Regions from separate parts of the Homo sapiens genome. Here regions 1, 2, 3, 4, 6 and 7 are each linked to region 5. The links come from fine-mapping of genetic effects on gene expression. A gene starts in region 5. Each other region holds a variant in brackets. All regions are shown on one strand. Distances are between the middles of the regions.

Region 1 (4,000 bases), 310 kb before region 5:
TAATATTTCTATGACCATGGAATTCAGCTTCTTATTGAATGCCTTTTATGGTGGGGAAGTCACTCTCTCCCAAGAAAGGCCATGGCTCCTTTTTTTAGAAACTTTCCTGATAAATTCATTTAAATGTTAAGGTAATAAAAATGGTCATTTTGGAAAGAAACTGATAAGGTGTTTCCCTGTTGGCTCCCTCACTATGGCAGAGATTGCAAAGGTGGTCCCCATTCTCCACCCTTCCTGTGTCAACACTCTTTGCAATGAGACTTTGCAGCTCCTCACATTGAGATGTGGGTCTATCTCCCTACCCCTTCAATCTATGCCAGTCTTGTGACTTGTTTTGCCAAGAGAATGAGGCAGATGTGACACTGGGTCAGTTTTCCAAGCCTAGGTCTCAAAAGGGCTGTGTGCTTCTGTTCTGTCTTTCGCTCCTCAAACTTGGCCACAAGACCATGCCCTACAAGGCTGCTGGGTGACAGGAGATGTGCAACAGAGCTGAGTCTGTTCAGTTGTCTCAGGTGATGTCCCACATATATGAAAGAACCCAGGTAACATCAGCAAATATTTGTAGGTGACCAGCATTGACTAGCCCAGATCATCAGACTCACCTAGCCAACCAACAAACTTGTGAGCAAAAATAAATGTCTACTGTTGTTTGTCACTAAGGTTTTCTATTTGTCTGTAACTTAGCATTTGGGGGACTATAATAACTGATAGATTTCTTTCCTTTTACAAATATGTACTGCTACCTAATAGCAATCCTGTCCCCCTATTGGGTGCTGGGGACACAAAGATGAATCAGAGTTCTTACTTTCAAGAAGCTCCCATCTAGTGGAGGAGCTATACAAAAAAATAGACAAATAGAATATAGTGTGGTTCATGAGATGGTAAAGACAAAATACAAAATATTGTGGATGGGCACAGGAGGTGAGGAATGTACTAAAGATTATACAAAGATAGAGGCCGCCATTTAGATATATACCCCAAGGCCAACTGCCCAGAGTCAAGTGGTAAAACTTAAGTCATTCTGATTTCCCTGAGTTGCTAGCTCTCATTATAAACAAAGCATAAAACATAAGCTTTATCTCCCTGTCAGCATGATTTGATGAAATTAAAACATAAGCTTTAGGTCCTTGTCAGCATGATTCAGGAAAATTAAATCAATCAACTATAGACAAATCAGTTTAAACAGTCCTGTTTCCCCTGAAAAAAAAATGTTAATACATAACAGCCAATGACTAAAAAGGTCAAAATACTTTCTCCTTAATGCTTCATAAACTGCACTGTAACTGCCGTAAGGTGAGCTTCTTACCACTTGAAGTCTTGCTGATGGCAATTGGTACTTTTTGTAAGATAGAAAACTTTCAAATTTTTCCCTAACTTGTTCTCATTTTACTTTTGACAAGTGGAAGGGTACAGAGGTGGCTTCTTAGAGAAAGGGACATAAGCTAAGTTTGAAAAGACTAGTAGGATTTTGCTAAAGTGAAACAGGTGTTCCAAGTAGAGGGAGGAGCTTGAACAAAGCCATGTGGGTAAGAGAGGTGCTCTCAGTAATCAAGATAGTGCCATTTTTTTAAAATTTTTTATTTTATTATTATTATTATTTTTTAACAGACCATAGCAGTCCCTTCAACAGTAAGGAAAGCATTTAAAGAGATGAACTAGAACGGGTGGGGATAGACCATGTGTTCATTCATCTGCAGTGGTACATGTTTCTCATCTATTCAGCAGTAAGGAATGCTGAAGTCACATTTATGGTCACAGAAATGTTTAGCTAGAGGGTAGGGAAGAAAAGGGAGTTAGGCATACAAGTTGTATTCCAGCAGGTCTTGAGGCTGGGCAGAAAATCTATTCATTTATATATTTCACAAATATTTACTCAGCCCTTACTATGTGCTTGGTAATGTGCTAGGCCCAGAGGATACAGAAGTGATTACTAGCATTTTAGCATGGGGACAGACCTTATTTGTCTTGACCTCAGCTACCCCGGTTCTCTCTTTACTAAACAAGTGATTCCTCAAATCAGTAGGATTTCCAACCACAAAATGGGAAG[G/C]GGGGGAAGGAAGGCAAAAAACAAAAACAGCATAACATTGTGAACTTTAAATTTTGTCAAATAAGGACAGTTTTTCAAAAGGGATATTTTAACATCAAAATAGAATAATTTCAGGGAGAAAAAAGATAGGCTTTCATAAGAAAAGTAAGTTCAGCTTAGATTAACATATACATTTACTTCTTTACTGGTTAACAGATGTTTCCTGAGTTCCCAGTCCAGGTCTGTGCCAGGCACAGAGATAAATGGTGAACAAGAGCATAGTGCCTGTACTCAAAGAGCATCCGATCTTGAGAGGGAAGCAGACCAGAGTGAACAATTACGCAGGTTTGGCCAGGACTTTCCCAGTTTCAGCGCTGAAAGTCTTGCCTTCTGGAAAACCCCTCAGTTTCAGCCAAACTGGGGCAACTGGCTACCTTAAGAAAAATATTAATCAGATCATTACACAAATATGTAATTACCAACTGTGAGAAGTAAATGAGGGAAAGCCAAAAGGTAGTAAGAGAGCACACAAGGGAGGTACCTAATTCAGTCTAGGTGACAGGGAATGCTTCTCCAAGGAAATGGTACATGAATTAAGATTTAAAACATGCATGGAAATTATTCAGGTGGGTGAGTGTGAGTGTTGTGTGTATGAGAGAGAAAGAATGCACGAGTGAGCTATGGTGAATGTTCCAGCCACAAGGAGAGCATACTAACTGGTACTTATTTTCACCACTCTGCCTTTCTTTGCCCAGTGAAAATTTTATCACGTGCCAATTCTAGAAATTGCTTTCCTAAGTCCCAGAGCTTCTTTGAGATGAATGAGGCAGTCCATATTCATTACCACTTAGGACCCAGGGTTTGCACAGGTAGAGCCAAAGCCAAGTCATCTCTTTCTGTGTCTTGCAGCCCCTTGCCTCCAGAACTCTTGGCCCCATTTGACAGATTAGTCCCCAAGAGGTTGTGTAAGTTGTCTATGGTTAGTACATGGATGACCACGATGGGATTTCAACTGAGGCAGATGTTGACCTCAAACTCTATGATAATGCTCTTTACTTGTATGCATAAATTGCTTAGGAAGGATACACTTCACCTCCCTTCTCCCCATCCCCTGTCCCACAATTTGGGGATGTTACTGCATCAGCTGCAGCAAGACTTCATTAGAAGATTGTGGCTTTGCTGCTTTGCTGCTCAGAAATGTCAGAGAATGGTTTTGCTTGGCTCTGTCCAGGGAGAAAGTTTTGAGTTGACCTCTGTTTGTGCCCACTCATCTGGAATAGCACATGCTTCTCCTCAGACATCCTGTGTAAAGCAAGGAAACAAAGAGTACTTCTAGTCACTCTCAAACCCTGTGTTCTTAGAAGAATCTAGGAATTCCTAGTTTGTTTTGAGAGAGAGAGAAAGAATGTACACTTGTGTACTTATGTGTTGTTTAATCTTTTGCAACAAACCTAAATATTTAAAAATCTTTTTGTGAAAGCCCCTTCCATGCTGATGGCTGTCTTGGCCTGGAGACTGCTCCATGACCCTAAAGAAGGGGAGCTCATCATACTACATTGATGACAGGTGTCCATGCAGGACACTGACTTCCCAGTAATAACGGCACTGTTGGCAACAACAACAATAGTTGAGACTTACTGTGTACTTAGTAAAGGCCTGATTCTAAGCATATTACAGGTATTAAATCACTTAAAAATTCTGTTATTATTCCTATTGTACAGATATGTAGACTGAGGCAGAGAGTTAAATAACATGCCCAGTGTTACAAAAACTGAAAGCAGTCAGGCATCAGGTTCTATATTTGTCTCTGCCAAATTATAGTCTTAATTTTAGGCTACCATTACTTCTTTGAGTCTTTCATCTGTTTTGAAGAGCAGAAAGCAAGGGCCATTAGAGCCAACACAGACTTACTCAAACTGAACATAACCTTCTGGCCTTGATGACAAGTAGGTTAGGGAATCTTCATTTCTAAAA
Region 2 (4,000 bases), 52 kb before region 5:
CCAAAAGTGGATGCTTTTCAGGGTAGGGGAGCAGAGCTTTTGGAATTAAAAGTGGTTTCACAAGTTCCCAGGCCACTAATATTAGCATCACCCGTGAACTTGAGTTAGAAATACAAAATCTCAAATTTTCAGTCCCTATCCCAAAGCTACTGAATCAGAACCTAAGATCTCCAGGTGATTCATTTACACATTGAAGTCTGAGAAGCACTATAGCCCTCCTGGTCAGGCTTTAAGAAGATGCTAAAACTGACTTTAGAAATCTCTTTAATTTTGATTTTGCAATCATGTTAAAGCCAAAGGAATTCTCAGCAAGAATTCCTGTACATGCTTACCAAAACACACCCCACACTAGAGGCTTACTCAGAAAATTCTGAAAGAAAATTGATTTTTTAAAATAAATTAATATAAGATGTTCTCAGAGGGTCACAAACACTGCCATGTAATCTAGACTTTAACTATTTCCTATGGGATTTATTTAGTGCAGTTTTATCTCAAGTGCGAGATGGTAAGAATCCTGAGAGGTTCGTGCCAGATATGCATTTAGATCTCCTGGGATATAGGCTGGAGCTGGCCACATGGCAAGTGCTCTAGAAGGCCCTGACACTGAACCAATGACCCTCCGCCCAATCCTCTTTGCTTAACTCAGTATAACTTTTCTTTCTGTGTTGCCAAAAAAGGTGATATATCCAATCCAAACTTGTTGATATAGCAACAAGTTTAGGCCAAATTGAAGAAGACCACTGCCATCATTCCTGGTCCTACGCCAAGAGCCATGCTTCACAGAGGGATTTTACTACTGCATGACATGATGGAATAAGCTGAGATTTGGAGCCCAGCAGACATGGATTTAAATTCTGGCTCTATCACCTGTTTGGGAAAACCTCCTTAGGATCAGTTTCCTGTGCTATCTACCAGGCACAGACCATTAGGATTAAAATCAACTAATGCTTATACAACTCAAAGCAGGGTACCGGGCAGCGCAGAACAGTTCTATATTCCAATTTTGTGTTTCAGTATATACCCGAGTCAGGTTTTCAAACTGGTTAATACAACTCTCCCACTTTATACATGAAGAAAGTGAGGCCTGAAATAAGAAGTGCTTTGACCAAAGCATACAATTGTTGACAGTAGAGTCAGAATTAGATTCTTGAAAACTCCTGACTCCTAAGAAACTCTGTTTTCAAACTCTTAGCAACCACAGAAGCCTTTATGTAGATTAAAACTTACAAAACAGCTCAATATATAAAATAGCTAAAAAGCCAAGCCTGCTTTGATTGCTGAAGCCCTTCTTTCCTACCACTCTCCTGCCCCGTGATGGCAATCCTTAGGCACCCTCTCAGCAACCTAAGCTCTCCCCATCTCCATTTACAATCTGAGTAATAGAAGACTCAGCCCACCTGAAATCTCAGAGCCAGTAAATGAATCACAGCAGGTCATGCTCATTAGATGGATTCTCTACTTCTCCAGACCACCTAGAGGTTTTCAAGTCCTTGAGATTCCCAAAGGACTTGAACTTTCTCACACATCCATCTCTAATGGGAACCATTAAGCTGACATCACCATTCTCCACACTTCAGAAAGAAGTCCTAACAT[C/G]TGGAAATGGGAGCCACCTGCAAGTGCTTTGACCAGAGATTGCCATATCATTTAAGGATGAGAAACTCGAGTGCAGGTGGGATGAGAAAGGGAAAGCCTAAGATGTCAACAAGGCCAAATATTAATAAGTTGGGGCTAAAAGTGTACAGAACAGCAAAGCTCTGGTCAGAAGATATGGACTTAAATCCCACCTCGGCTGCTTTCTCATTGGAACGGTAATTAACCTCTCTGAACTCCAATAGAATACTGGGTATTAAAAGAATTGATTTTGTTCACATCCTTTGCCCAGTTGTTGATGGGGTTGTTTTTTTCTTGTAAATTTGTTTGAGTTCATTGTAGATTCTGGATATTAGCCCTTTGTCAGATGAGTAGATTGCAAAAATTTTCTCCCATTCTGTAGGTTGCCTGTTCACTCTGATGGTAGTTTCTTTTGCTGTGCAGAAGCTCTTTAGTTTAATGAGATCCCATTTGTCAATTTTGGCTTTTGTTGCCATTGCTTTTGGTGTTTTAGACATGAAGTCCTTGCCCATACCTATGTCCTGAATGGTACTGCCTAGGTTTTCTTCTAGGGTTTTTATGGTTTTAGGTCTAACATTTAAGTCTTTAATCCATCTTGAATTAATTTTTGTATAAGGTGTAAGGAAGGGATCCAGTTTCAGTTTTCTCCATATGGCTAGCCAGTTTTCCCAGCACCATTTATTAAATAGGGAATCCTTTCCCCATTTCTTGTTTTTCTCAGGTTTGTCAAAGATCAGATAGTTGTAGATATGTGGCATTATTTCTGAGGGCTCTGTTCTGTTCCACTGGTCTATATATCTGTTTTGGTACCAGTACCATGCTACTATAAAGACACATGCACATGTATGTTTATTGTGGCACTATTCACAACAGCAAAGACTTGGAACCAACCCAAATGTCCAACAATGATAGACTGGATTAAGAAAATGTGGCACATATACACCATGGAATAATATGCAGCCATAAAAAATGATGAGTTCACACGTCCTTTGTAGGGACATGCATGAAGCTGGAAACCATCATTCTCAGCAAACTATCACAAGGACAAAAAACCAAACACCACATGTTCTCACTCATAGGTGGGAATAGAACAATGAGAACACATGGACACAGGAAGGGGAACATCACACACCGGGGCCTGTTGTGGGGTGGGGGGAGGGGGGAGGGATAGCATTAGAAGATATACCTAATGTTAAATGACGAGTTAATGGGTGCAGCACACCAACATGGCACACGTATACATATGTAACTAACCTGCACGTTGTGCACATGTACCCTAAAACTTAAAGTATAATAATAAAGAATAACCGAAAAAAAAAGAGGAAAAAAAAGGCATAAAGGCATCAAAAAGATACACTTTTTCTGAGATTGCTTCTTTGCTAACTGATTTTTCCTTCCACCACGACGTCTAAGATTAAAAGAGAAATTGATACTTAAAAAAAAAAAAAAAAAAAAAGAATTGATTTTGGATGGCCGGGCACAGTGGTTCACACCTATAATCATATCACTTTTGCAGGATCACATAAGGCCAGGAGTTCGAAATCAGCCTGGCCAAAATAGTGAGACCAAGTCTCTACAAAAGAAACATTTTAAAATTAAAAAAAAATGATTTTGGAGTCAGCCAGTCTTAGGTTCAAATTCTGGTTCTGTCACATATTTACTTTGTCACTTTGAGTGAGTTGTTTTATCTCTATGAACATTCGTTTTCTTGTCTACAAAACAGACACCCTAAAATAAACACCACACACAAACACTTCATAGGGTCGTTGGCCTTCAAAGAGATAATGTGTACAATACTTGTCACAGTGCCTAGTATGAGTTAGGCACATAAAAACAGGTGTGATTTAACTACACTGTAATCAATAAAATGGGATCAACCTTCCTCCTAGTTGCTGGGAAAAATCAAACATAACCGATTTTAGCAGGGTGCCTGGTACCTACAGGTCCACAGTAACAGGAATCCTCTACTATTGTTGGTATCTTCTCTTAGACCCTATGCACTCACCTCTTTCAGCCACAGAAGTTTCGGGGCCTGCATTTCCACAGACATCACCCCCCCGACGTACTGGAGGACACTGTGCTTGGTCTCATTGATCCTGTTAACTTGACTGACTGCTCGATGGTCCAGCCACATGATGACGTTTCGATGGGAATCCCCTAGCAGAAACGAGAGGGAGATGCAGATGGACACACATTCTCTTCCTTCTAATTCAAGGGAACAATTATGGATTCCCAAGATCAAAATGCTATGTACTTTCTATAATTTTATGTATCAAGAGTGTGCAAAATGAAAGGACACCAGCAAGGCTGAGGAAAGCACTGTCCCCAGGCCTGGAATTTCCCGTCCAGTCATGTGTTCTCTGACCATGACCTTAGAATAAATGTCTAC
Region 3 (4,000 bases), 220 kb before region 5:
GCAGCCAGTGACGCAAGTGCAATCTTAGACTCTGGGCCCCCAAACACACACTTTTCTAGCAGTCCGTACCTTTTGAACTTGGAGTAGGAAGTCCTCCTAACAGGTGCTTGGCAGTGTCAGAACCAGTGGCTGGATTACTGTGTGTTTTTTTGTTTTTGTTCCCCAGTTCAGCAAAGGAAAATAACAGCTCAGCTAATTTTCTCGGCCATATACTAATACAGGAGAGAATAAGTGAAACCTTCTGTTTAAAAATGGCCCCAGAATACCAGATACAGTTCTGTAGTAGATGAGATGATCAGAGCTTGTTTAAAATGAGAGGCTCTGGGCACAGAATAAGACACCTTGCTCCATTTACTAGGTACTACTTTTCCATTGTTTGATGCAAGGGTTGCACTAAAGCTGATGTGAAGACAGAGGCACACAAATAAGGGTTTGAGTCTTGGATCCAGTCTTCCTGGTCCTGTAACCTTAGGCAAATCCCTTCACCTCCTCGAAGGTCAGTTTTCCCAACCATTCGTGGGAGGTAAAAATACCTTCCCTATTCCAAGGGTAGTTTAAAAACAGCAAGTCACTACAAAAAGATTAAGATTAATCTTTGAGATTGAGATTGTAAGCATTAATTAACAAATTTAGTAAACAAAATTAACGTCAACATTAATATTGTTTATCTCTCCACCACACAACCCCAATAGCTACGCATCCCATTCCTACCCTGATCTAATAAGCCTGGCCTTATTCCCCATGATTGATGGAACCCAGACTCCTGTGCTGCTTTAAATACACTTTATTAGAGTCACTTCTCCACCCTGGGCCTCAACTTTCTCATCCATAAAATAGATCTACAAACGTCCAGAAGGATATTAAGCAGAAGCTCTATCTTCCACTATAGATACAAATATGCATTGGTGTAAGTATGGGCTAACGTAAGTAAAGGCACAAACATACCTACACACAAATAGATTCACTAGCCAGGTCAACACGGGAGAGCTCATAGGCTCTGCAATCGGTGGGTCCAGGAACCCAACTTTATAATTTATTAAAATGTAACCTTTGGCAGGTTCTTAAACCTTCATCCTTGTATGTTAAAGTCCAAAAATAATTGTAGCTCACAGTGTGGTTGTGAGCTCACAATAGTGAATAGTCAAGTACCTAGCAAAACACTTGGCACAGCATAGGTATTCAACGATTGGTAGGTGAAATAAAAATAACTGCTTTGAGCTCTTTGGAAGGAACTCGAATAGCAGGTGTTTTTATTATTTCCAGCTCTGGAGGAGATTCTTTGGAGCTTTTTGTAGATTGTGACAACAAAACAAAGAGATTTACTCAAGTGTGGCTCAGGAAAACTAAATTACCTATTTAATAACCACCAGTGAAGCTGCCTGTGGCCATTAAATGGGATATAAGGTATAAAATGGAATAACAAATCAGGAGTCATTCCCTTTTCCTAATCTGGAGACAGTGTAGTACAATGGGGCGGGGACCCTGGCTGATGAACTAGGTCACTCAGATTCTAAATTTGACTCTGAAAGTAATATGCTGGGGTAACTTTGGATGATTCACCATTGTCTGGGCCTCAGTTTTCTCATCTGCAAATTGAAGAATTTGGTATACAGAATCTTTGAGCAGCCTTTTAGTTCTAAAGCCTATGATTACTCATTATCCAAACAGGAGTGTATGTATTAAACTCAAAATATTATGGTTTCATGGCAGGTTCACAGCCATATACACTGACGTGTGGCACAAGATTTAAAAACTGGGGACACATGGGGAGCTGGCAATAGCACCAGGCCCTGGATTCTCTCGGTTTTCTTCCACAGAGTCAAAGTCTGGTCTCTCAGCTAAGGCCAGCCTTCTGCAGTCCAGAGAATCACAGCACTCCAAGAAAGCCTTGGAGCCTGGGAACAGGAAACTCAGTTATCCTTCCCCCCACGTATGCTCTCTGCCCCTCCCTCCATCACATGAGCTGTTGCCAC[G/A]GCTCATGAACTGCCGAGGTCTCAGGCAGTAGTGGGTCGCATTAAACCGAACCTCAACTTAAAACAATAAACTTGCAATCCCATGAATACGTTCTTCCTCTGCCCTCTGTGATTCACATCCAGGAACTCCCAGAGTTGTCCTTGCTCTATCTGCTCAGGGACTGGCACGGTTTTCTCCTTCCAGATTCCACGGCATGACTTTATCTGCATTTCTAATCCCCCCCCACCCCCAATTTCTTGCAGACCGTCTGCCTCTTTGGATCCATATTCTCTCTCATTTTGGACAAGCTCCCTCCTGCCCCCAGCTTTTGGCCAGCGCCTGGCCTGGCTCCTGCGCAGCACGGTTCTGCTCTGGTCTGATCTGCCTACTTGGCAGAAACACATCAATACTGCTTCTGACCCCAGTGTCCTCAGTGCCAACTCATCCCCCCAGGCTGTCTCCTCTGGGTACCAGGTGACATTTTCCACACTTAGAACAAGATTCCAGGCATCCTCAGCAGGGTAGGGCATGGGAATCTATATTTTCTTAAAGTCTCCCTCACCTATATTTACCAATTCTTATTCTGGATTTTTCAAAACCCTCTTATATTTATTATCTTAATTACTAATAATAGTAATTAAATAATTACATTGATTTAGTGAAGACCAGCTATGTGGATTTCATGCTGGATGATGGGCATACAAACGTGAACATGATTTGGTGAAAAAACTGAAATAGTTGTAAAGTATTTCACAGATACAGCATAGAGAGTGATTGGTGCTTTTCTAAGAATGGATTAAATTTGGAGATGTTTCCACAAAGTAACATTTAGACTGAGTGCTGATGGATGAGTAACAAAGGAAAGGAGGTGGAATGTGCATGATGTGCTGAAAGACGGCCAAGTTGTCCCGTGTGGCTTGACTCTGAAATAGATGAGCTAGAAACCATCCTGTCCTCCCTACTCCTCAGGCTTCACTTCTATTATTTTCTTAATCTCACAACTACTTTTACTGAAGAGTCAATTTCACAAAACACATTTCAACAAAGTACTAATGTATCAGCAAAACCCTTATTGTGGGCTGCTTTTTGGCTTCTATAGAAATAAGCTGAATTGATGAAGAGAAATAATATCACTGGAGGTGTTCCAGGAGAGAATAGGGTTTCTCACCTTCAGTGCTACTGACATTTGACATTTGAAGCTGGATAATTCTTTGTTGCAGGGGGTTGGCCTGGGCATTGTAAGGTGTTTGGCAGCATCCCTGGCCTCTACCCACCACAGGCCAGTGCCATTTCCCTTTCCCCAGAAGCAATAAACAAAACTGTCCCCAGACATTGCCAAATGTCCCCTGAGGGGTCAAATCACCCCTGGTTGAGAACCACTGGCCTAGAGAAAAGATATATGAACCTTGGAGGCAGACTCAATTTCAAATCTTGCTATGAGATTAGTTATGTGATTGTGGAAACATTATTCTTTCTGCCTTCAATTCCCTCATGCAGAATGGGGAAACAACCTCTACCTTGTAGGCTTATCGTGAGGAGCAAGATATAAAGTCTGAGCAGTATCAGGTAGAGTACTTGGCACATAGGACACATGTAAGAAATGGTCATCATAGTAGTACCAGTCAGAGTGGTGGTTGTATTTGTTCTAATTAACAATGTTATTATTTTATTATTAGAAATGAAGCCTAGTTGAAGTTTAAAAGTCGCAAAAAATATATAAATTCCACTTTACCAGGAAGCAATAACAGGGAAAGCAGTGTCGTAATTAGATTACTGGACATCACTCCCTCTAGGAATCCTTTAATAATTGTTTAAGTCTCAATTTTAGGCCCATTTTATGTTTTTCCAAAGCCTTCCATACACGGCACAAGTAACCGTAACTGTTTATTTACTTGTCTATTTTCTTTACTAGAATACAAATTCCCAGAAGTCCACTTCTCTCTCATAGTCACTGTCTAACCCCATGAACTAGTAAAGTGGGTCGTCAATAAATATTAAAGACTTTCCTTTTTCAAAATTTGTTACTTGCTCACATTTTTAGGGTCAA
Region 4 (4,701 bases), 63 kb after region 5:
GCACAGCCATGCCTGTCTCAACATCTTCCCCAACCCCTTGCAAAATGTCCTGAACTCTAGGAAGGAAGACGCAAATGACCATCACTTCATGCGAAGAGTATTCTGTTTTGATTAACAAATAATCCTGGCTGTAGTATTAAATCATGTATGACCTTAGACAGATTACTTAGCCTTTCTGGATTTCACTTTACTCATCTACAAATTGGGAGACTGTAAACCAACAACAAAGTATTGTTGTAAGGATTAGCGATAACATAAGCAAAGCTCCCTGCACAGTACAAGACCCTGGGTAAGATAAATAACACGTCTGGAGACCTTAGTTTTGGCTCCAAGATTGTCTCTGACTTCATAAGACAATTATTCCATGAAAATTATATTCACATTGATGAATCAAATACTTTCTGGAGCAAATATGATTGATTCAGTTTGTATTTTTGATTGAATTTCTGTACAGCACAGCTCGCCATTTCTGATTTTTCCCATTTTAATTTTATTATAATAAAATATTTCTTTATAAATTGTGAAAGAAATATTTTATGAATTAATCAGTACTTTTTACATGATGAACTGAGTATAGCTTCTGTCACTTCAGGTTTTCTTTTGTGAACATTAATTCTATAAAATTCTGTTTCAAATTCTATTCTTGTTTAGGAAGAGTTGATATTTTTGTTAATTGGTGGTCAATAACATTCTACTATATGTGATTTTCATCCATTATATTTTGCATCAAGTATTTCTACCAGTAGTGTTCATTAAGGATCCAAAAGTCATTGAACATAAGACTGAGAAGTAGCATCTGTGGTTTTTTAAAGCAAAGGATAGAGAGCATTACTACAGCAAGGAAGAAGTATGACGTGAGTCAGAGTCAAAGTGGTCGGGTCAAAACATCCTTCTTCATTCCCAATCTCCCTTACACTCCTTCACCGTGGACTGGGCTTTTGACATTGGCATTCACCTGATCCCCACCTGAGCTGGCTGTACTCTTTGCACACCATTATTGAAGAGAATAGACATATTAAAGATCTTTGATTCCTTGTTGCTTTCCCTGATGTCCTTCATGCTTGGAGACAGCCTCTTTTTGCTTTTTACCAGCTCATTCCAGCAGAGCTTGCACCTGAGTTTGCAAGAACCTTGTTTTAGCAAAGAAACCTTATTTTGAAAACAAATTTGTGGTGAGGAGTAAAAGACACAGTGTTGACCAAGAATCTCACATAATGTCTGACATTGTGGCCCTTAATTTATAGGAATTTGTTCTTCTATCCTTGCCTCTGGGCTTGTTCTTTTCTCAGGGAGACAATGAGGTCCAATGGAAAGGGCATGGGCTTCAGAATCAGACTGATCTGGGTTAAAATCTGAATTCTCCCGTTTTTTAGCTGTTACTGGATGAGTTATTTCATTTATCTGAGCCTCAGTTTTGTTAGTAAAGAATGGGAGAAAAATATTTTTTATATATGGGCATTGTTGCAAAAGATAAATTACAATACATGTAAAACATTCACTCAGGAACTGGGAATACATAGTCCCTGCCCACATATGGTGTAGGGAGGGACTCAGACATCAGCAAATAATAATCAAATTAATAAATTATTATAATCATGATGGCGACATTGAAAGGGTTTCTGTAAGGGCAAATAAGAAAATCTAATGTCATTGGGGCTTGGGAGTGTCACTCAAACCATGGTACACATGATGGCTATGCCACATTTTCATATATGTGTGTGTCTTAGTCTGTTTTCAAGCTGCTGATAAAGACATATCCAAGGCTGGATAATTTATAAAGAAAAAGAGGTTTAATGGACTCACAGTTCCACATAGCTGGGGAGGCCTCACAACCATGGCAGAAGGCAAAAGGCATGTGTTACATGGCAGCAGGCAAGAGAGAAAATGAGAGCCAAGCGAAAGGGTTTTCTCCCTATAAAACCATCAGATCTCATGAGACTTATTCTCTACCACGAGAACAGTGTGGAGGATACTGCCCCCATGATTCAGTTGTCTTCCACCGGGTCCCTCCCACAACACATGGGAGTTATGGGAGCTACAGTTCAAGATGAGATTTGGGTGGGAACACAGCCAAACCATATCAGTGTGTGTAT[G/T]TGTTCTTGTGTATGTGTATGTGAACAGTGGATACAAGTACAGTCTTTGTAATTAGGCAGATGTGAGCTTGAATTTTGATTTTTACCACATATAAGTGAATTTTGGCAAAGTGTTTAATTTTCTAAATCTCAGTTTCTCATCTGTAAAAGGGGGTGCACAATACATCTACCACATGGGACTGTCCTAAGGATTTTCCTCCCCTTCCTCCTCATCTCTAACTTCTACTGAGTGCTTTCTGCATGCCAGGCACCATATACTCAGTGCTCTACATCCATGTAATCCCCACAGTAATCCCCTGAAATTGGGACTATTAATATCCTGAGGAAACTGGGCCAAAAAGAGGTTGGAGAACTTGCCCAAGGATATACACTCATGAGTGATAGTTAGAAAGAATTTCAACCAAAAATCTGGCTCACAAGGCCGTGTGTTTTACACAAGATACATGGAGAGAGAGCTCAATACCTGGGTGCTCTTCTCATCCTGATAATTTATCATCGTTTTTGTTTCCTCCATCAAGGGGATATAGATTTTCATTATTCCTAACCATCTGCCCAAGATCTATAGAACACAATAGGTGCTCTGTAAGTGCATTCTGAATAGATGAATGTACTGGATGTGGCAGAGGCAGTCCCGTTGTAGAGGTGGTGGGTGAGGTGGGACAGGATTAAGCACCCTCCCCCGCTGCTCCCCAGTACTTTCAGAAAGCCTTTCAGCACCCTTGATTGCTATGTGCTCTGACAAATGCATAAAATATGGTCCCTTTCTAGTTGCTTGCTCGGTCTGTTTCTGGAGAGGTGCCAGCCGTCTATTTGATCAACTTCAGGCAGCAGTGTGGTAGTCAAGGCTGAGCAGAGTGCAGCCGGCTGAGAAAATGGGTAAATATTTTATAGACCCTACGGTAAATAATGTATACATTCAGAGAAACAAGGTGAATCTTTTATAGGCCTGAGCCCCTGTTAAGTCAGCAATTAAATGCTGGTGCTGGAAGAAATAAAAGCTAGTCCTAAATCTTCCTACCTTACAGAGAGTCAAGGCCTGCACTTAATCTCTGGGCAAGAAGTTCAGTCTCTTTTCACTGATGCTGATTATTTTTTGTTTTTATTATTTTTTTTACTATTTTTTTGAGAGTCAGAGTCTTATTTTTTGAGAGACAGACTCCATTGCCCAGGCTGGAGTGCAGTGGCAGCCTCAAACTCCTGGGCCTCAAGCAATCCACCTGCCTCAATCTTCTGAGTAGCTAGGCCTACAGGTGCACATCACCATGCCTGGCTAATTTTTACATTGTTTGTAAAGACGGGGTCTCCCTGTGTTGCCAGGCAGGTCTCAAACTCCTGGCCTCAAGCAATCCTCTTGTGTTGCCTTCCCAAAGTATTGAAATTACAGGTGCAAGCCATTTCTTCTGGCCTCTGTTCACTGATGCTGAGTTGCTCAAATTTCAGTATTTTTTTCTGCAAAGAAAAGTCCTTTTCTTTATTCCAATGCTACTTGTAGTGTATATGCACAAATGTCTCTTTACTTACATTTGCATATATATATATTTATATTGAGTGTCTATGTGTAGACCTTCACATGTGAGATTTATTTTAATCCTCACAGCAATTCCAGTGAGGTGCATGTAGTAGGTACATAACAGATATTTGGTTTCCTTTGTTTGTTGAGGACCTACCTTGTGCCAAGCCCTCCCCTAGGTGGTATGGTACCATAAGCCTGGAGTGTACAATCTAATGGTAGGAGATAAATAGTAAACACGAGTTTCGCATGGAGGTAAGTGCTGGGGAGAAAAATGAAGCTGAGTAAGGGGAACAGAAAATGCCGAGCAGAAGGCTTATTGGCAGGATAACCTCGGAACAGACACTTGCAGTTTGGATGGTGGTGGTGAGCATGTTCCTATAGTTTCAAGGGATTATAGCTAATGTGTTGTTTGGCCTAATCAGGACCAAGGCATTTATTCCCTCAGCTTCTGGAAGCTGCACCCCTTCGCTGGAACTGCCCTCAACTGATGGAACTGTCTCAATCAAGTTTTGTCCCTACTTTCCAGGGGCAGTTCACATCCAATGACTGTTGATGCAGGTTTTTAAAGACCCGACCCCTTCTGTCAATGGGAATAACCCTGAGTGGGCATCCTGGGTGGCATTGAGGATCCTATCACTGATGGTATGTGAGGCCCTGATAGCCTTGGCATGCTCCAGTGGTGCAATTGTTAATTAGTGGTGAAAAGGGTAGGATACCAGTGGAAGGGAATGCAATAGTCGTTGCAATATCTCAGGCATTTAACAGGTTTGGGTGAAAGAGTAATTATAAGGACAATGGAATCGGATGTGTGTAATTAATGCATTGGAAAAATGCATAATGAAGGCTGGGGGTGATTAATCACCAGTGTATGACAAAATGTGGCAGTCAGAAGTCCTTCTTGGCAGCATATGAAGCAACACTCACTGCAGCCAGAGGATGAAAAAAACTGAGGCTCAGGCCTGGGACTTAACTATAAAGGTAGCAGAGCTCTAGAGGAGACTGGATTCTCAACCACAGTAAGCTGGCTACACCAAGGTCAGGCCCTTGATTGGGAAGGAGACTTGGGGTGAAAACATCTAGGTTAATGTAGTTAAT
Region 5 (4,602 bases):
GGGGGTTCCACTCTGGCTAGGAGATTAAGGGCAAGATTCATTACCTCAAATTATTTTAAAAACCAGCTGGTAATTGACTGTGATTTAAACTATTTAAATCAATAAGTGAAAGGTTAGGTAAAGGGAACTATTTAAACTAATAAGTGAAAGGTTAGGGAAAGGGAACCAAATTCCAGGAAAAGCCAAGGCCCACAACAAAAACTAACACAGCCTGGAAGGCCCAGCCTCCTCCCAGTAAACTTATTAATTTTATCCAGAAAGACATGGCTCTCCACCCTCTGGGGTTATGCCCTTCTCCCAGCACACATGTTTTGACTTCCAAATCCAGCCAGGCAGGCTCCCAACCTCCCTCCCCCTCAAAATTGATCTCCAGGCCCAGCTGACCCCCTCTGATCTGTTCCCCCAATCATCCTTAATAACAGTGCTCTGGGCCTCCCACTAGGAGGTCCTCCAAGAGCCAGGCCAGTGGCCATCAGGTCAAGAGCCAAGCATGAGGGCCCCATTAACAGGAGACTCCCAGAAGACCAAGCGGCAGTCATCTGGCTGGAAAATCCAGCAAGCAAGTTAAAAAGGAAAAAAATCAGGACATACACGTGGTGGATCATAGAAAAAAAAGAGGAAAAGCAAGCAAAAACTATACAAAGCAAAACTCTACCATTTAAATAACAGCCACAAAATAAAAGACTTTCCCTTCTTTCATTCTGATTTACAAGTCAAAAGAATAAGCACCTCACCCCTCCTGGTCTCATACTTTAAAATTTAACCTAAGGATTAACTGCTTTTCAGACTTTGGTCATGTCATGACTGACTCTTCGGGGAAGAAATTTGTGTTAAGACACAGAAGTGCTTTAGTGGAAAACAGCCCATGATGAGGGAAATTCACCATTTTGCACCTTGTCAATTTTTTTTTTTTTTTTCTGAGACGCTCTGTCCCCCAGGCTGGAGTGCAGTGGCACGATCTCAGCTCACTGCAAGCTCCGCCTCCTGGGTTCACGCTATTCTCCTGCCTCAGCCTCCCGAGAAGCTGGGACTGCAGGCGCCCGCCACCACGCCCGGCTAATTTTTTGTATTTTTAGTAGAGACGGGGGTTTCACCGTGTTAGCCTGGATGGTCTCGATCTCCTGACCTCGTGATCCACCCGCCTTGGCCTCCCAAAGTGCTGGGATTACAGGCGTGAGCCACCGCGCCCGGCCCCTTGTCAATCTTTAAATAAAAAGGAAACGGCTAAAAATGAAAAGATATCCCTAGGCCTTTCTACTCAGGATAACTGTAACCAAACAGCATTATCTCATCTAAACTCAGCTGTGCCTCAAACATTATCACAAGTGCTGGAAGCGTTTAAATCTACAAGCAACACTAGCCTAAAAATGCCTTCGGTAGCCAGACGTGAATTAAAGGCTCCTCAAATGCCAGGAAAATGTCCTACAAGGGTAAGGGGAGGAGAGAAAGAGTACTGAATACAGATAAGTGGGCACTGATCGGAGAGGAAGCAGCACGGGTTCCAGACACCTAATAGGCAGCCTTGGGGATGCAGTCAAGGCCGACCCTTCCCTTCCCTTCCCTTAAGTGGCCGGACGCCTCACCCAGAAGAGGACACAGGGGACTCAACAACGTCTCGGGAACAACGGCCCGGCGGGTGTGAGACTAAGCGGCCAGGAGGAGGAAGGGGAGGAGGAGGCAGGGGAGGAGGAGGCAACGACTGCGGGAAAGGGGAAGGAAGGGCCGGGCCGGGTTGGAGAAGCCTCTTTCTGGGCGTGCGCGCTAAGAGCCTGCGCACCAGCAAAAGCCCCCAGCGCCCACGTGGGACTGAGAGGAGGGTCACTTACAGTACTTGTCCAATCTGAAATTACATTTTAGCTAGACGGATTCTGCACGTAGCCGCGCCGAACCCCACGGCGCCTGAGCAGGGCGGTCCCGGGGCGGCTACAGCCCCGCCTTGCGCGCGATCCCGCCCCCGCCGGCGCGGCCCCTGTAAAGCGCGGCCCCTGTAAAGCGCGGCCCCTGTAAAGCGCGGCCCCTGTAAAGCGCGGCCCCTGTAAAGCGCGGCCCCTGTAAAGCGCGGCCCCTGTAAAGCGCGGCCCCTGTAAAGCGCGGCCTGATTGGCCCTTTGAACCGGGCGTGGGATTGGCCGTCGCCTGCCCACCCCGCGGCTGCAGCGTTCCCTGGGGCCTAGCCAACCGCGGGCAGGGCTGGGCAAGGCGGGAGGAGCGCGGACCCAAGATCGGCTACGCTGCGTCTGCTCAGGCTGCGAGTTCCCGGCTCTGGGGACTCACCTTGCGGAGCTTACCCAGGCGGACTCTCCGCAGCCCCTGATGGGTGTGTGTGTCAGACCGTTTACTAAACACCAGGACTGTTGTAGGCGACTGTAAGAAATAAGAATATTGCATGGTTACAATTCTTGAATGCTTACCTTGTGTCTTGTTCCTTACTCTACAGAAATTTTCTAATCCCGTGGCGAACCCCCGTACTTCAACGTATGACATTCTGTAAATCTACAAAACAGATGGGTCCCTGCCTTTGAGAAGTTTTTACAATTTAGTGGGTACTGGACACGGACCTAATTTAATTCTCACATGCCTTCCCTTTCTAATAAGCTGCATGTTATGTATCCCTATTCTACAGATGTGGGGAATCCGAAATTTTTAGCTTTTACTGGGACACACAGCTAGCAAGCAACTAAAGCGAGAATTCCAACCTGAGCTCCAATCCGAACTATTTTCATAAAAGGCAGGATCCCAGGCTGAGGGAGTTCGAGGTTTGGGAGACAGTTTAGCAGTCGCTGAGTCCAAACATGTTGTTTTCCTAGAAAAGAAAACTGAGATCCAGGAAAGGGAAGTGATTTTCCAAAGACACACCTGTGAAAGGTAATAATTTCACTGAACGGATCTTAAGTGGCAGGTGCACTAAGATTGTCTGCTATCTTCACAACAACCCCGAAGTAAATAAGTGCTCTTATCTTGGTCTTACAGGTGAGGAGAACAGCCCAGTGAGGCTGAGGCCACACAATTAACCCCAGTCTTTGCACTACAACTCTACCAGGGATCCTGGTTTGGCTCATTTTCTTTCTTCTGCACCATGATTGTTCACCTTTTCATTACCAGCAACATACCCAAAGACCTAGCTATAGACTCGTTGGAATCTGTTACTTAGCAGCTGTGTGAATCAAGTGTTCAATAGGAATAATAAGATGTATTCATCTTACCTTTTCAGAACATTATGAAGAACAAATGTGGTAAGACATATGAAAATGCTTTGTAAAGTGTTAGATGCTTAATACACAGAAGACATTGCTTCCAGATCTGTTTCAACGTACCCCAAGAATGGAATAAGTGGAATATGCTGGTTTCATGCACTGTGGCAAGGGGGTCTCATCTTGGCTAGACTTGAATAAGTGGATTTGTTGCCTGGCCTCTGTGGATGGCTCTTTCTCTGGGCTTTTGTGTATTTGATTTTTTATTTGCTCCAGCAGCCGTGTTGAACCATGAAAGGACCTCAGGAATGAAACCCACACACAGCAAAGCAACAAAGTGAAAGAAGCGTGGATTCCTAATGCAGGAGGCACTGAACCAATCAATACCCACTGCCCTCCAGACCTCCACATGAAAGAAAAAAACTGCTGTCCTGTGTAAGACACTTTTATTTTGTGTTTCTATTGTATGAGGTCAAACCTAATAACAGATATATTACACTCTAACAGATACATTACATTGTATAGTAGAATTCTCAGACAGCAACCTTATAAGGTGATAGATGCAGAAACAGGCCCAAAGAGTAAAAATAATTTGTTCAGAGTTTTCCAGCCAAGTGGCGAAGGTGAGATTCTTACCTGGGTTTGTCTGAAACCAATTTTCACTATCTTTTTCAGTTATGATACACTGCCTATTACGAATGAATGAATCCTTTTTTTTTTTTCCATTTACTTCCATTTGATTCATTTATTCCAGGGAGTGACACTTTTTCTGTAAAGGACCGATAGTAAATATTTTAGACTTTGTGAGCAATACAGTCTCTGTTGCAACTACTCAACTTTGTAATGTAAAAGCAGCCATAGACAATAGTAAATGAGTAGGTATGACTATGTTTCAATAAAACTTTACTTACACAAGCAGGCAATGGACAATGTGGCCCATGAGCCTTAGTTTGCCAACCCCTAATGAAATGGGAAAAGTTCCCTTGTCCCCTTCACAGGGCGTGCGATGTGGGTGTGACTCACTTCTTCAGTCCCCACTGCACAAACCTCTAGGGAAGCATACAGACAGGTAGGCTGTGGAGATCTGACCCCACGGCAGTGTCTAGGGGTGACTGTTTACAGCCAAAGCCCCAGTGGGCACATGTAGCAGGGTGCTCTTTTAGTTTAGCCGTCCGTGGGTGGCTTGTGTTAGCCAGCTCAATTAAACCCCTGCCTTATTGCAAGGACAGAGGGCTTTCTGTATCTCGGGGTTCTTGCCTTGGTGTAGCAGAAGAATTGGATCACACGTGGGCTTGGAGAATGATTGCAAGGTTTTATGGAGTGAAAGTAGCTCTCAGCAGGTGGAGGAGCCAAAAGGGAGATGGTTTTCCCCTGGTGTCGGGCCGCTTGGCGGCCCAGGCTCTCCTCCCACT
Region 6 (4,000 bases), 340 kb before region 5:
TTTATCTAAGGCAACAAATGACCTCTTTATTATCTCTATGTTGCCTATAAATTATAAATAAGCATATACTGAGCACTTACTCTGTGTCCAGGGAAACGTTTTAGGGGCCAAAAGAAGAAATTGTACATGGATCTTGCTTTATTGGAATTATCCTGCTAGTTCCTATTAACATTTTTTCAAGCACTCGCCCACTCCCAACTTTAAACATACTCCATGAAGGTAGGTATTGTTGCATCTTACTCATATCTACGGCAGTGCCTGGCATACAATAGGAACCCAATTAATATTTGCTGAATGAGTGCTGGAGATAGGCATCATCGTAGTTTCCAGCAAAAGGATATAACATAACAGAAGAATTTCAGGGTCATTATTTTGATGTTTTCCAAAACTGGACTGAAGGAAGGAGATTTGGGGTGAAGTGTTTAGCTCAGAATTGCTTTCCTTCTATCTTATTTAGGTCATCTTCTCCTTCCAGTGTTGTGATGCAAATTCATGGAGTGATAACTGTTCCATTGCAGCCTAACCCAAGGACAGTTATAAAGGGAATCATTGCCAAGAACTACCAAGTGATATATGAGGTATGTGAACAAACATACAACTTTTTAAAAAAGTAAACATACCCAGGATTTTTAGATACAACTGGGCATATGTCCCCATGTAAGAAGTTCCTTTTGGTGCATACATACTTATTCTCATGATATGAGAATTCTTCAGAACACTCCATTGATTTCTTTGGAATTTCATTCTGCATTTGGGTCAACTGTATTAGAATATCCTTCTGATGATAATTCTTAGGTCTTGGATGTCAGGATTGGTTTTAAAAAATGGATAAAAGCTACTGGGAGACATGAAGCCTGACATGCTGGGTACTGAATTTGGGTATGACAGACATTGGCTAGGGAAGGCTCCTAGGTCAGTTTTATCTAAAGCAACAAATGACCTCCAGAGCAATGACCATTTTACTATGCAACACTGCTTTGTTTTGGGGTCATTTAAAACACTGGTCAAGCTTCTTAACTGCTTCAACATTTTAAATATCTAGCTCTATTTGGCTTCAGATATTTGTCTCTAATTAAGACACTTATTTCTGTACCCATATGAAATGTGTTCTTCCCCTACCCCCTGTTTACAGAGAGAGTTGGTTATCTGAAAGTATGACTTTCTAGTTGCGGTCTGTTGCCACATGGCCCTCTCTGGACATTATTCTTCTGCCTCTATAAAAAAGGACACCAAGCTCATGATTTGTTGTGTAGGCATGCTTCATGGACTCCAGATCAACATAACCTTTGTCATGTCTAATTTTCTTTTCTTTTCACCATGACTCCCTTTTAGTAATAGAAGTTGATCATGTCAACTAGGTAATGAAAATAAATTTCAGGTCTTCCTGCTGGCATCATAAAAATATTTAAAACAATCTCAATAAAACTAACCACAAAATTGTAGTAGTTTGAGTCTTGAATTCTTGACTCCATCAGGCCTGCTCCACTGTTACGCGGCTTCCTTTGCATAAGCCTTGCCTTGTTTACAGCCTCCATTCTGAACTCTGCCTTAATGTACCTCACACTCACCTTCTCAGCTTCATGACATTTTCCTGGTTCCTGCATTCATGGCTTATTTTCTTATTTGTGGCCTCACCTGGCCCCTCCTCTACCTTTAACCTGCTTCATCACACCTCAAACATGATTCTCCTGGTGTCTAAGATGTTATTACTTTTATATCTCAACTGGGGTGGTTGAGAGTTCTCCCACCAAGTTCATCTGGCCCCTCTAGGAGAGCCTAGAATATCCACAGAGGAAGTGACCCTAAAGGGCACTAAGAGCAGGATTTATTTTCCAACATAAGTTATAAATTACATTTACTTATACCAAAGTTTAATCTGAAATCCTAACTATATTAGTGTAGAATCTGAACAGCCCTGACTCAGAGCCTAGGCAGATGTGTGGCTGTGGCCAGCAAGACCATGGGTGGTAATATTTACTACTGATTTACTGGGCAACCTAAAGATGCAGCTGGAAAATTTGACTTTACAAACTGATATAAATGCCAAAATTACATAGGCATGACTTTTAGCCACTCCACAGGACAAAGAGGCAGCAGTAGCTGAACTAGGAAATGCTGCTTTTAACGCTTTCAAGGTTGGCTCAGAAACAATGAAAACTTTCAGCAGCTCATCCCAGGGAGCAGCAACAGCAATGCATCTGCACAAAGCCAGAGGGCTGTTGGCCTGTTTTATTTTTTTCTTTTCCTTTTTCCTCACTTTGCTTCTTCCAAACTTTGTAGCCCTTTGGCCTGCCTTCACCCATGTGCAAGGACTAGCTGTTACTT[A/G]CCATGCCCTTTAGTGTCAGATCTGCTAAGGGAGACCGGTTGCCATGGAAATCTGGCCAAACATGTAAATCAACAGTAAGGAAACCCACAGGCTGAGCCTTCTTAATCAGATCCAGGTGACTGTTCAAATATGCATATATACTCTGGCATCTGGAAGAGAAGTGAATTTTATTTTTAAAGGGGGGATAGGGTCAGGGAGCAAATCATTCTATAGAAAGAAACCATTTGTACTTCCAGATCCAGGAAAGTAAGCAGGCTCCTAAAAGCTTCAGAGAAGCTAGCCCACTGTACTCTCAAATCACACTGTACTATCACCAAGAAAGGTGCCACATCCTAGTAGAAAGGTTTGGAGTCAGAAGACTGGATCCAGGAATGGCTTTACTCTTAGTAGATGTATGGCCATGAGAAAGTTATTCAAACTTTCTGAACCACCCTCTTCTCATCTGTAAAAACAGATATCATAATCCCTGTCCAACTTACCTCATAGGGTTATTGTGAAGATCAAAGAAGATTATGTATGTGAAGGCGCAGTATTTTGTAAACTGTACAGTACTGGTCATATGTCAATAATTTATTAAAATCAGTATTCCTAATTGTAATAATGATGATGAGTTGATAAATGGAGAGAAATTATAAGTTCCCAGACTCAGGATAGGATTTTGCTAAGTAAAGTGACTGAATGTCATAAATGCAGTTAGGATCAGGAGTTAGAGACCTGATTTTCAACCTAAACCCACCAGATGACATTGTGTACGTTTTTTCTTTTTCTTTTTTTGAGATGGAGTTTCAGTCTTGTTGCCCAGGTGGGAGTGCAATGGTGCAATCTCGGCTCACTACAACCTCCGCCTCCCAGATTCAAGCGATTCTCCTGCCTCAGCCTCCCCACCCAGCTAATTTTTGTATTTTTAGTAGAGACGGGGTTTCACCATGTTAGCCAGGCTGGTCTCAAACCCCTGACCTCAGGTGATCCACACATCTCGGCCTCCCAAAGTGCTAGGATTACAGGTGTGAGCCACCTCGCCTGGTTTTTTTTCTCCTTTTTAAGTCTCAGTTTCTTCATGTGTAGAATGAGGGAGTCAAACCAACTCCTTCATTCTTTACATGTTCAGGTGAAGAGGAGGTGGAGAGAAGATGATGGGCATGAGAGCACTACTCAGTTCAAATCTTGATACTACCTCTCCTAGCTCGGTAAAATGGGCCAGTGACTTAACCTCTGACCTCCAATTTTCCCACTCATAAAATAGGTTTAATAACACCTACCTCACCGGGTTAAATCACACCACATGACACAAAGATGAAAGCTGGTCAACCTTCCCCTCTTAAAAGATGCTGCTTTCTAAAAGTTCTGAACCAATGATTTCAAAAGAAAGTGGATATTGCAGTAGTTGGCATCTGTGCTACTTCCCACTGGGGTCCTTGGAAGTCTCTTTAAAGGTTAAAAACATGGCTTGTATAATGGCAGAAAAAAAAGTATAGGAAATCAATATCCAAAGGAGGTTAATATCTAAGATACCTAAGGCATTATTTATGCTTTGCATTTTAAAAGTGTTTTAGAAGGAAGGCTCAGTGATTTCTAGTTCTAGTTTGTGATTGGGTGAGTGATCCCATGGATCCCATGAAGTTGCCAAAAGTTTCCTGTACTTGGTGTAGGGAAACAAACCAATGAGTAGAGCAT
Region 7 (4,000 bases), 97 kb before region 5:
ACTCTTCCCAGTCGATTTCTCAGATTTCTCAACACCTAACACGTGTCATGCACTCTGTACCGGGGTTATAAAAGTGAATAGACTGTAGTATCTTCATCCAAAGACCTCCTAGGCTGTTAGAAGAAAAATGTATGTCAAGAAATAATTACACTACAATGAGAGAAGTTCTTGAAGAACTATAGGAAAAATGAAACAGTAGTGTGTAACTGCCCAAAAGAGTCTGTGTAACTGCCCAAAATTCACAAATAATATTTAAGTTGGGTCTCGAAGGGTGAATAGCAGTTGACAAGCAGAAAAAAGGGCAAATGATACTCTGCGGGGAGGAAACAGTACGTGCAAAGTCAAGAAGACATGAAAAGGCCTGGTTTGCCCAGAGATTGAGGAGATGTCTGATGTGGCTGAAAGGCTGGTGAGTGATAAGGACCAGCAGGAGATGAGCTTAGTCTCAGTGCTGTGAAAATATCACCAATTTTCTGAATAATGTGCATTTGGAGCTGTCTGGATAAGGGTTGAAGATGGTAAGGAAATAAATATGTAAAGTGATAGTCCATGGGTTTTTCAATGCAAATCTGAAGTTACCCTTGCACTATTCCCTCCAGAAGGTGAATATTTTAATGGTAGACAATAGTATTTAGCTCCATTTGCCTAGGTCTTATACGCCAGCAACAAATAATAAAAACAGCAGCAGGAATAGCTAATGTTGAGTCCTTAGCAGGTTGTACTATGAGCTTTATACACTTGAACCTGTTCAATCCCGCAACAAGCCCATGAAATATAAATAAGACAATGAAGTGCAGAAATGGTATGTAACGTGCTCAAGGTCACACAATAAGTCCCAGGGTGGGCATTTTACACCAGAGCCAAAGTTCAACCACTCACCCTCGAGTCTACTATCCTTCCTCCATGAAGGATGCTCTCGGATTTTGTAGGGCCTGAAGCTTTTATGTAAAGGCTCTTTAAGAAAAGGAATACAATTATGAATATGAGATTAAGTACAATAGTGATATTTATTTACAGTAAGAAAAAAGTTTAAAAACAAATACCTTGAGCTTTGAGGATGTAGGTCCCTTTTATCTGATCAGTGTACCCTTTGCAGGGCTGGATTAATGAAGTTTGCTTGATAGGGCACTAGGCCCATTATTGGCACTCACCTCTAGAACAAAGAAAAATACTGGCCCTTCCAAGGCAAAACAAAGGCAGACTTTTCCCCCAACAGATCCCTTTTCCTTTGTAAGAGACACTACGCAGACCTTTGGTCCTCCACTGAACTACATTTAAAATAGCTTTTGTGAAGGATAGACACAGTGGCCATTCTTATATATGTGTGTGCAAGCAGCAAAGAAGTGATTGTAATATGAACAATGTGTACTTCTTCCCACTTCTGACAGAATAGACGACATTGTGTCCTGAGCCTGGGAGGGGGTTGGGGGCCAAAATAAAGAAACCAAACCTTAAGTTTTATTACATGAAATTCTGATAAAAAGCACTTCGAAGCCTCTTTCCCATCATCAAAAAACCACACTGGGCAAGATCAGAGCTTAACAGCCAACAAAAAAACACATTCAATCCCTGAGATCATTTTCCTGAAATAGAAAACTACATATGTTTCTCAAATTTCACATCAAGCCACTGCAGAGGCCAGACTGCAGGGCTGATTTGGGCCAAAGTAAGTAAGAGAGAAGGGAGAGAGGAGGGGGATGGGGTGGGAAAGGGAGTAAACAGGAGAAAATGAGCCCGTTCTTCCACATCACCACATTTCTCTAGCACAATCTAAACTTACAAACACCCCCTGTTTCACAGAACTTGTAGTGAGGCTTGCTTATCGGGCAGCCTTTACTTTGTCAAATTAAGACACATTGCCTTGGATTAGCAAGACTCCTTAAATTCAAAATGACTTCACGGTTGGCTCAGAGTGCAGTGTCTCTAGGGCCAGCCGCCAGGAACACAT[C/G]CACTGCAGAGGTCCCTCCCCCACATACTGACCTACCTGACTTTTCCATGGAGACAGCAGAGCAAAATCCTAAGCAGACAGGCTGTCAATGTTAATTAAAGGTCCAAACACCTCTTTAGAAACTATCTCCAGCTCAATATTTATACAGAACATAAGACTCCTAACAGGCAGGGTTGGGGAGAAGAGGAGGAGGTTAAGGGCGGAAATAGGTTTGAATGGCATTTGGAATCCATTAATTTTTAAAAGACAGGCTGCCACCTTATATAGACCCAGAGAGGTTCAAAATGTAACAAAACCAGGAAGATGAATGAGCTGAAGATTGTTTAGAAAGCCTGGCAAGAGTGCTCCGCTTTTGAAAAGAATAATATCTGGGCAATAATGAGAGCTGACATTTTTTATTGGTGAATGCAGTTTTTGGCACATTTTAACAATACAGGTTGACAATTTTTTGTATTTAACAAAAGGAAAAGCAATCTTCTAAATGATCTGGGAACAGAGGGCTCCCTGACTGCAATTTCTTAATAACATGTAAGAATTCTCTTCAAAGGCCCTTGATAATTTACAGAGAAGAAGGAAAAATGAAGAAAAATTTTAAAAGAAGGTATATTTTTTCGAAAAAGAAACAAAATAGAAGTAGTAAAGGAGAAAAAGGAGGAAAGGAAAGGGTACAGCATTTTAACATTAAATCATAGCCCAAAGGGTTGGATTCTAAGGTTTGACTTTAGCAATCTCCTTTCAAAGGAATGAGTTTTAAAGGAGAATCCAAAAGGAGATGCTGGTCAACCCCACTACATCTTACAGACTCAGAACTTTGGGCCTGGGAAGTACTAAATAAATCACCCACTCCAAGCAGCACATTTTGCAGATGAGAAAAGTCTGATATGGGTGCCAGGGGCCCCAAGTTACCTGGTTGGACCAGACACGAGTCTTACGAGCTCCAAGCCACACCACTTCTGTATCTTGTGATGTAGGTCCTGAAAACCGCCAAGCCTTAAGAGCTCTAGTGCCACTTGATTCCAAGACTGAATACTGATACCTTTAACCAGATTGACTGATTTGAACCTCTACCAAGGTTCTTGAGACTACCAAGAATCACATAAGTATAACATATTCCGAAAGTATGAAGTTCACAAAATAGTCCACTGACAGAGTTAGCCACCCTGGGTAAGAAATGAATTTAAGAGTTCACAAAGACTGAGATGCCCACTGTATCCTGAGGGAGGCCTTCTTGGGTCAGGAAAAAGACTCCTGAACAAGGCATGATCCAGGAATGTACCCCTTAAAATTTAACTCTTATTCCACACACTGGCTTCACCCTCAGAATGAAACCCTTCTGAGTTTCAGTTCTGTTCCCTGAAACACGAGATCTAACTCTCTAGCATCTTCACAGTTCCAAAACATTTTCAACAGAGAATATAGTATCATATCTATTTGTAAGTGAGGAATCAAATTCAGAGAGAGTTCTACTTTATCATATTGAAAAAGCAAATGAAATTAAATTCCAAAAGTGATTCAAGGTCTCAGAGAAAATTGTTCAGTAAAGGAAAAGCTATACTGCTGCTCAGTTGGAAAATGACAGTCATGCTAGAGATCATCTTTCAGCCACATAAAATCCACATCTAGACGTACACAGCAGAGAACTGGGGAAAAAGCTTTATAGAAATGGAACAGATTCAGACTAGTGGTTCTCAGTGAAGAGTGCACATCATAATCGTCGAGGTCACACAGTTTTACCCTTTCCTCCAAAGGACAAAGATGGGGCTTCTCACCCTTTTCTATCCAGATTTGCTTTACTAATGAAAAGAGAAAGAAGCAACCTCAACCTTCCTCAGACTTTGCCTCAATGTAGCAGAGAGGGACAGTCAGTGATGTAACAAGTGAGTACAAGTGCAAGGCACAGTCCCTGAGAACCTGTGCCTTAACTCATGCTTCTCATGATGTTAGCACCTCCTACTTCCTCCTACTCCCTCCGACTCCCCCACTGCCTCCAGCCCGACTGACCCAGCATGCTTCATCCTCTCTCGCCCTCCCTGGACTTTAAGCCTCTGAACT

Direction of the effects. Positions count from the first base shown, and alleles are read on the strand shown. Sizes are in standard deviations (SD) of each study's normalised expression. Not every link is listed here.
As copies of C replace G in region 1, the expression in stomach of the gene that starts at base 1,640 in region 5 goes down (large effect, 0.78 SD a copy in GTEx).

Evidence for each region.
Region 1: its variant is fine-mapped to the expression of FGGY in stomach (GTEx, PIP above 0.99).
Region 2: its variant is fine-mapped to the expression of FGGY in whole blood (TOPMed, PIP above 0.99). The same link has a PIP of 0.9 or more in esophagus muscle.
Region 3: its variant is fine-mapped to the expression of FGGY in pancreas (GTEx, PIP above 0.99).
Region 4: its variant is fine-mapped to the expression of FGGY in whole blood (TOPMed, PIP above 0.99).
Region 6: its variant is fine-mapped to the expression of FGGY in whole blood (TOPMed, PIP above 0.99).
Region 7: its variant is fine-mapped to the expression of FGGY in pancreas (GTEx, PIP above 0.99).

Annotation. Positions count from the first base shown.
Region 1 is chr1:59,603,737-59,607,736 of GRCh38, reverse strand. The region is part of intron 8 of FGGY (FGGY carbohydrate kinase domain containing); the gene reads right to left. Among named protein-coding and RNA genes, the nearest start is that of MIR4711, 130 kb to the left of the region's middle. The variant G/C (reference allele first, on the strand shown) is at 2,048.
Region 2 is chr1:59,346,015-59,350,014 of GRCh38, reverse strand. It overlaps FGGY (FGGY carbohydrate kinase domain containing), which reads right to left. Exons shown (of 16, transcript NM_018291.5): 4 at 3,617-3,768. Among named protein-coding and RNA genes, the nearest start is that of FGGY, 51 kb to the right of the region's middle. The variant C/G (reference allele first, on the strand shown) is at 1,594.
Region 3 is chr1:59,519,235-59,523,234 of GRCh38, reverse strand. The region is part of intron 7 of FGGY (FGGY carbohydrate kinase domain containing); the gene reads right to left. Among named protein-coding and RNA genes, the nearest start is that of MIR4711, 210 kb to the left of the region's middle. The variant G/A (reference allele first, on the strand shown) is at 1,974.
Region 4 is chr1:59,230,617-59,235,317 of GRCh38, reverse strand. No RefSeq gene overlaps it. Among named protein-coding and RNA genes, the nearest start is that of FGGY-DT, 64 kb to the left of the region's middle. The variant G/T (reference allele first, on the strand shown) is at 2,094.
Region 5 is chr1:59,294,132-59,298,733 of GRCh38, reverse strand. FGGY (FGGY carbohydrate kinase domain containing) reads right to left here and starts at 1,640. Exons shown (of 16, transcript NM_018291.5): 1 at 1,584-1,640. It overlaps FGGY-DT (FGGY divergent transcript), which reads left to right and starts at 2,184. Exons shown (of 2, transcript XR_001738089.2): 1 at 2,184-2,365; 2 at 2,970-4,602. RefSeq lists an enhancer at 1-181 and silencers at 1,599-1,688, 1,699-2,238.
Region 6 is chr1:59,636,703-59,640,702 of GRCh38, reverse strand. It overlaps FGGY (FGGY carbohydrate kinase domain containing), which reads right to left. Exons shown (of 16, transcript NM_018291.5): 11 at 2,328-2,475. Among named protein-coding and RNA genes, the nearest start is that of MIR4711, 95 kb to the left of the region's middle. The variant A/G (reference allele first, on the strand shown) is at 2,326.
Region 7 is chr1:59,391,279-59,395,278 of GRCh38, reverse strand. All of the region lies in intron 5 of FGGY (FGGY carbohydrate kinase domain containing), which reads right to left. Among named protein-coding and RNA genes, the nearest start is that of FGGY, 96 kb to the right of the region's middle. The variant C/G (reference allele first, on the strand shown) is at 1,949.